Linked DNA regions of Homo sapiens. The protein of the gene in region 1 purifies or fractionates together with the protein of each later gene. This does not show direct contact. Each region holds a gene or a part of one and is shown on either strand. Other genes may lie near its edges.

The links. Proteins that work in one complex are often made in the same cells at the same time.
Region 2: the proteins of FGL1 (region 1) and AARS2 purify together in Homo sapiens (affinity purification with mass spectrometry; 4 studies listed by BioGRID and IntAct, with this or other methods). This does not show direct contact.

The regions. Positions count from the first base shown.
Region 1 is NC_000008.11:17,878,525-17,882,024, reverse strand, and holds part of FGL1 (fibrinogen-like protein 1 precursor), read left to right. Parts: coding exon 1-26; intron 27-3,500. UniProt on the Homo sapiens protein: Immune suppressive molecule that inhibits antigen-specific T-cell activation by acting as a major ligand of LAG3. Responsible for LAG3 T-cell inhibitory function. Binds LAG3 independently from MHC class II (MHC-II).
Region 2 is NC_000006.12:44,310,548-44,314,666, forward strand, and holds the start of AARS2 (alanine--tRNA ligase, mitochondrial), read right to left. Parts: upstream 2,801-4,119; 5' UTR 2,777-2,800; coding exon 2,534-2,776; intron 1,717-2,533; coding exon 1,525-1,716; intron 989-1,524; coding exon 843-988; intron 615-842; coding exon 447-614; intron 1-446. UniProt on the Homo sapiens protein: Catalyzes the attachment of alanine to tRNA(Ala) in a two-step reaction: alanine is first activated by ATP to form Ala-AMP and then transferred to the acceptor end of tRNA(Ala). Also edits incorrectly charged tRNA(Ala) via its editing domain.

The DNA.
Region 1 (3,500 bases):
TCTTGGAAGCAAGAGGCAGTATGCAGGTCAGAATGGACTTTTCTTAAGTGTTTCTATAACTTACATTATGCACCCATGTACAGTGATGGTGCTAGTTATTTCAGGCTTTTCCTATTTCAGTAACAAGCAATATGAAGCATTATATCTATTGTAAATGTCTTCTTTCACACTTTACTTTTTTTTTTTTTTTTGAGGCGGAGTCTTGCTCTGTCGCCCAGGCAGGAGTGCAGTGGTGCAATTTTGGCTCACTGCAAGCTCCGTCTACCAGGTTCACACCATTCTCCTGCCTCAGTCTCCCGAGTAGCTGGGACTACAGGTGCCCACCACCAGGCCCGGCTACTTTTTTTGTATTTTTAGTAGAGGCAGGGTTTCACCATGTTAGCCAGGATGGTCTCGATCACCTGACCTTGTGATTCGCCTGCCTCGGCCTCCCAAAGTGCTGGGATTACAGGCGTGAGCCACCGTGCCCAGCCGACACTTTACTTTTTTCTATCTCTGCCAGGGCATTTAATGTGAATGCTAAATATCTGAGAATTTATATCATTTAATAAGAAATCAGGACAATAGATTGTTTAAATACTGATGGACACAGCCAAGTGCGGTGGCTCACGCCTGTAATCCCAGCACGTTGGGAGGCCTAGGTGGGCGGATTACAAGGTCAGGAGATCTAGACCAGCCTGGCCAATATGGTGAAACCCCATCTCTACTAAAAATACAAAAATTAGCTGGGCGTGGTGGCAGGTGCCTGTAGTCCCAGCTACCTGGGAGGCTGAGGCAGGAGAATCACTTGAACCCAGGAGTCGCAGGTTGCAGTGAGCCAAGATCGTGCCACTGCACTCCAGCCTGGGCAACACAATAAGACTCTGTCTCAAAAAAAAAAAAAAAATCCGTGTACACATGGCAGATTACAATTGGGAATTTTTGCATTTGAGCTTTGTGTTTGTGTATCTTTCCTTGTTGCATGTATGCAGTTTTCCCTTCTGAAATCCTAATGTGCATTAGGGTGGCAAATAAGGTAAAAAATAAAGGAGCAGAAAAAGGAAAAAGAACCAGAATTACTAAGGAAAATAAAAGAGTAGTTTTTTATATGTATATTTTCTGATTTCATAATGTTCCTTTCAATGAGGTATTTCTCCCCAGAAACTAAATGATTTTAAACTGGCAACACATTACACACATTGCTGCACAAATCATTATTCTCTATGGAAAACTGTTCACTTGAATTCCTCCAGAAGTAAAAGGTATCTTTTAGAGTAAACGACGATTGTCAGAAACAAAAAGAATGCTAGCGAAAGCACTTTGTCCATATGTCTATTCTAGCACTACCATGCTACATTGTAATTTCTGTTTATGAGTCTATTGAGGTCAATTAACTGGGCACTCTGTGAGGTCTAGAATGATATTTAATGTACTTTTATCTCCCTGTTGGCTATTAGAGTGCCTGAAACATAGTAGATCCTCATATTCAGGAATGAAAGGAAGGTAGTTCATAGGGAGAGGAATAGCAAGATAAGCAAATATAAATTCGGACACCTATTTGACTAGAATTGAAAGACTGTAGAGGTCAAAGAGTTGCCAATCTTATGGGAATAGAAACATGTTTATTTTCTGCTTCTAATCATACAAGTGTAGGATATAGGAGTTGTGAGAGTCTATGCTTCCATAAAATGCTTCAGGGCACCTGGCTGGCTCACACTGTAGCGCATGAGACTCTTAAAATGCTCCCTTTTTTTCTACCAAGATCCTTATCTCCCTCTGCTCAGACTCCTCGCCCTGGGCTCCTGCTTCTCTTATGGCCAGCATCTTGATCCAACTGCCCTCCCTCTGGCCCTTAGAGATCAGAAAGAGGCCAGAGCCAGTGGTCTGCAGTAGTGGGGATGGCTATAGCCTGAAGATGGCCAGTGCCTCTGGAGCCAAGAGGAACCAGGGACAGTTCGGGTAAAAATGGGCTTGGGAAGCAAACGGACTATCGTTTAAGGGATGAGCATACAGATAAGTGATCCCAAAAGAACATACAAAGCTGATCTCAAGGGCGAGGAACTCGTAGATGCCAGTGGATCATCATTACTCCAAATTTCAAACCAAGCCCAAGACTTGGGGTTTCTATTTGAACACATTCTGAGCAGGTTATTGGCACAGACTCAAGGGTCAATCATGGCAGGGGGCAGCTAATCAGATGTTTGTTCCCAGGCCTCTACAACCAGTCATGGGAAGACTGAGGCTTAAGTGCTGTATTAGTCCGTTCTCATACCGCTATAACGAAATGAATGAGGCTGGGTCGTTTATAAAGAAAAGAGGTTTAATTGGCTCATGGTTCTGCAGGCTGTAAAGGAAGCATAGCAGCATCTGCTTCTGGGGAGGCCTCAGGGAACTTACAATCATGGCAGACGGCAAAGCAGAAGCAGGCACATCTCACATGGTGGGAACAGGAGAAAGAGAGGGAGGAGGTGCGACACTGTTTCAAAAACCAGATCTCATGAGAACTCACCACTCACTGTAGAGTACCAAGAGAGATGGTGCTAAAACATTCATGACAACTCCACCCCCATGAGCCAATCGCCTCCCACTAGGCCTTCCCTCCCACACTGGGAACTACAACTCAACATGAGATTTGGTGGGGACACACATCCAAATCATATCAAGAGCTGAAGATCCAGTCCTTGTGTTGACACTGCTGGGGAGCAGACTTTGGGAAGTAAGGGGTCACCAAGGAATAAGGCAAGAAATCAGTTACTTGGAAATTACGATGCCAAGGTCAGAGCAGGATTAACTGTACAAGCAGGAGTTAGAAGAGTCATATAGAGATGCTTCAGAAAAAACATTATAATTATTATAAATATAATACTGTTATAATAATAAGACAGATGATAGGAATTCTAGATGACTGTTTTTTGATATAAAAGCCAAAAAAATCAGAATTCAGTAGATTAAAACAATATTTTTCATATATTAATTACAAGCATGAAGAAGAAAAAGGGGAAATAAAATATAAACACAGTTCAATTGTTCTTTATATTTTAGCATATAGGGAGATAGTACTGGAGAGGCTACTAAGAACAGATACTCAATAAATAAAATATATAACATAAAAATTCCAATAAAGTATAGTGTTTTATATATATATAATATGGTATAAAATATATAAGAACTTGTTCACCTCAAAGTTTATGTTTTTGGTGTCCTTAAATTGAAAACAATTAAATATTCATACATATAATCTGTAGAAATATAAATCTTTTCTTCTTATTTACAAGTTACTTTATTATTACTAAATTAGTTATTTTCTGAATTCTAATTTATCTGATGGTAGAAAACACCCAATTACATACAACCTAGCAATTTGTGCAAACAATGCACTAGGCACATGATTTTCTACAGCATACTATTAAGCTGTATCTTTTTTTAAAGAATTTGGGTGCTAGCGGATTATGAATTAAAAGGTTACTGTGTCAAATTCACATTAACTGGTGGCAAGAACAAAAATCTGGCGTCACCACCGC
Region 2 (4,119 bases), on another chromosome or scaffold:
AGTGGGAGGAACCAGACAATCAGTATCTTCCCCTGCCACCCTGCAATAGCAGATGATGATGGCCTTGGGGTCCTGTCCTTCCTCATATAGGGCTATTTCCATTCTCACCCCTGCTTGGGCCCTTGCCTGGGCACCAGACATCCCATCTTGGGACAGAATTCTTTGCCCCTAGAAAGATATGTCAAGGCTAGAAGAAAATCTGAGATCATCAAGTTCAACTCGTTGATCATCAAGTTCAACAGAGAATAGCAGTGACTTGTTTAAGCTGTCACAGGCAAAGACTACAATTAAATCAGTTATTATCTATAAGGTGTTGAGAATTGTGCCTGACACACGGTAAGCACCGTTTACATGTTTGTTTTTATATGAAACAGATCAAAGTCTTCTAATTGCCACCTTTCCCACTTCTAGTCAGGGATTCTCATCCTGCTTCAGCACCCTATTACCTGTTGTGTTGCATGAAGACCAGGTTCCAAAGCTCTACCAGCTGGGGGGCTCCCACCCCACCAGCAAGGTCGTAGTGGATCTCAGTACAGGGCCCACAAGGGCCAGTATCCCCCATCTCCCAGAAGTTCTCTTGTGGTCCAAAGGAAAGCACACGGCTAGCAGGCACCCTGGGGAGAAAAGCAGGTGAGTGGTGGGAGACAGACAGACCCAGAAGCTGGGACTCTCTCTGCCATGAGAGCCCCTCCCTCAAGTCACAGCTCAGCAAGAGGAGGAACAGGGCTGACCCCACAATATCCTGGAATGAAATGCTAAGACTCTGAGGATTGGTGCTGGTAGTCTCCACTTTCCAGTCCTCCTGACCTCCAGGAATGAACATAAGAAGGGGGCTGACTTACCCTAAGCTCAGCCAGATGTCCCTGGTCTCCAGGTCTGGGTCCAGCCCTGCCTTGGGGTCACCATCAAAGTAGGAGATCCAGAGCCTTTCCTCAGGGATCCCATAGACCTGAGTCAGCAGTTCCCAGGCCATGTTACAAGCCTCCTCCTGCAGCAGAAACCAGCATGGGGTGGGGGGGGAAGACGGGTGAGAGGGAGACCCCACTGAAGTAATCAAGCCACATGAGTTTAGCTCCCGACTTAAGACAAAAGCATTTCTGCTGCCATCTTGTTCCCAGAATAAGCCATGAACCATTACTGCCTCTGAGTGTTTTCCTGCCCAGAAAGCTTCCCCCTTCTTCTAAGTCCTATCTTCTTTCAAGTCCCAGACCAAGTCCCACTTTCACATGAAATTCTCTGCCTACTCTAGCCTAGAGTGATCTTTAACTCCAGTAAGCACCTTAGCATTGCTGTTTGACCATTTATTCAAACAACAATTTTTGAGTGATCATTAGGCAGAAAGTACAGTCTCTGCCCTTCAGGGACTTACAATCCAATCAGGGAGGTGAGGTAATTCCTGTTACACCGGCTCAACTAGCACTTTGCCTCCACATCTGGTATGAGGCCCTGCCTAAGCAGACAGTACAATGGAAACAGGACAAATTGACTCCCTTCTTGGCTGATCACTGATCCCCAGAGACTCACCTTAAAATATTCACCCCCAAAGGCCCAATTGCCAAGCATTTCAAAGAAGGTATGATGGGAAAGGTCTCGACCCACATCTTCCAGGTCGTTATGGTGTCCTCCAGCTCTCACACATTTCTGGCTGTTGGCCACACGTCGGAAGCCTGCCATCTCGCTTCGTGGATCCACGGTGCCCAGAAAGATTGGCTTGAACTGGAAGCACATAGAGTGGGGAGGGGGAGAGGGATATCCAATTTCTCAGTAGAAGGGAAATGTGGGGAGTGAGGATAGGGATGGCTGTTCAGACCGAAGGCTGACTGTGCCCCTGAGAGTGCAGTGTAATCTTGGTCTATGAGGACAAACTGGGAGCCTCGGGACAGCCATCTCTGGTGTGTGGGGAGCAGAGAAGAGGTAAACAAATCATGAACCGGAGACCCTCTGCCTAGTAAAATAGGCAAGGTAAAAGAAGGAGGAATGTGTTGGGAGCTGGAAATGGGACGCTGAAAGGTGGCATCCTCCGTCTCAGCTTCTTCAACCACACCCAATAACTTCAGGGAACAAAACTGAGACTCATTTAGTAGGGAGCCCAGACGGCCTCTAAGGTTAACTTATGCCGCCCCTATTTTACAGATGAGGACAATGAAGTCTAGAAAAGATGAGTGGTTGATAAAAACCAAAACCTTAGAGAATAGTACTCAGCAAACAATAGGTGATCAATAAACATTTAATGAAAGCGTTATCTTTATTTAAATAACGAATAAATGAAATCAGACTTCTCCCTCGGGATTCCACTCCAGCCATTTCTGGACCTAATACTCAATCCCAATCCAGAAGTTCCCAGCTCAAGCCCTCCCCAAGCCCTCCCTATACTCTGAGCGCCGTACCCCCATCACTTTACCCAACCAAGCACCGCCCTCTTTCCCCAAAAGCTACGAACTCCGCCTCTCGCTTCTTTTGCCCAATCCTGCAGCGTCTTTCTCACCAGAAAACTCACGAACTCCGCTCCCTATCAGTATGGTTCGGCCCTCACCTGGTTCATGCCCGCATTGACAAAAAGCAAACTGGGGTCGCCGCGGGGCCGCACGGAAGCGGAGGGCACCAGCCGGTGGCCATGGCGGTCCCGAAAGAAGTTCAGAAAGGCGGCCCTCACGGCCGAGGCCTTGGCTGCAGGGGGCTCCGATGAGAGCGGCCGATGGCTGAGGCCCCGCCATGCGGGCGACCTTCGAATGGCCCGCCGCAGCCTCCGGGCTGCAGCTGCCACTGACGCTGCCATCGTAGCTCCGGGCAGTGACTTTACGTGGTCAAAGAGTGACGAGGGAAGGAAGCCAGGCGTTTCCTACAGCGGCCCCTGGCGGTAGGAGGACTCAGGGGGCGGCCTCTGCCGCCGGGGTGGAAGCGATCGATTGGGTCGCTGGCAGAGTCTAGCACAGCGCCCGGCACATAGTAGGCTCTTAATTCATTCGGCATTAAGCAAATATTCATTGAGAGCCTACTATGTGCTAGGCATTGTTTTGGGCTTTTAGGGTACAAAATTGACAAAATGCCCTGCCCACTGAAATCCGTATTCTAGCAGTAATTGCTGTTGTGCTTATTAGTTTTGCAAAGTTACAGATGGGGTTGCAATAAACAGGTGTGGATTCAACTTCGTGTGTGTGTGTGTGTGTGTGTGTGTGTGTTTTGTGTGTGTTTTTCCAGGCTGAGGGAAGAAGGCAGAGAGTGACAGGGGAGTATCAGCATTCATTCAAGAGGTATTCAACAAATATTTATTGAAGACCTAGTATGTGCTAGGCACTGTTCTAGGCATTTGCCAGTTTCCTTGGACCTTGGCATCAGACACGGCCATTTTTGCCCGTGAAGCAGGAGTCTATAGGAGAACACAGAAGCCAAACAGCATCTGCTATATTATTAATTGCCTAACATTTGGTCTTCTCATTTGCCTGGGGATCAGAGAGAATCCAGGTCGTCAAGGCAGGAGGAAGCTGTTGGCTAATAGCTGCAGAGATTTCACTCTCTAAGCCTTCTAATGCCCTAAGGTTTTGTGTGTTTTCGTTTAGGATAAGAGATATACCTGTTCTACCTCTCCCTTCTGTCTTTCCATAGTAACAGCTGTGACCCTGAAGCCAACAGGCCCTTGTGGATGCAATCAGGGTGCTCATGGGGCTTCTCATGATGCCCTTGGCTTGGGAAATTAAACAGATTGGGAAGACAGAAGAGAATCTGCCAAAGCTAAAACTCAATAGAGGTTCCAGAGCTGAGGTCAGTGTAATAACCGAGAAGGCCTTAGCCATCAGGGTGGTCTCTTTTAGCCACGATTCTGTGTGTGTTAAGTTATTTGGGGTCTTTGTATACATAGTTTCTCTGCGGAATCTACATTGGACTTGAATTTCTATAGTGATAGTAAATTCTTAACTTTGTGTTCTGACAGCACCTATAACTCCTATTCCATGATCCCCTTTTTCTCCCTTTGCCCACATAGATTAAAGGTGTTGTTTTGAAAGTGTGTTTGGCCTGTTTTGGTTTTTCCAGTGTTTCTGGAACAGAAAGCTAAAGCCAGCTGGGGATTTCTGTGTGATTAATGACTTTTTTATTTTTTTGAGATGGGGTTTCACTCTTGTT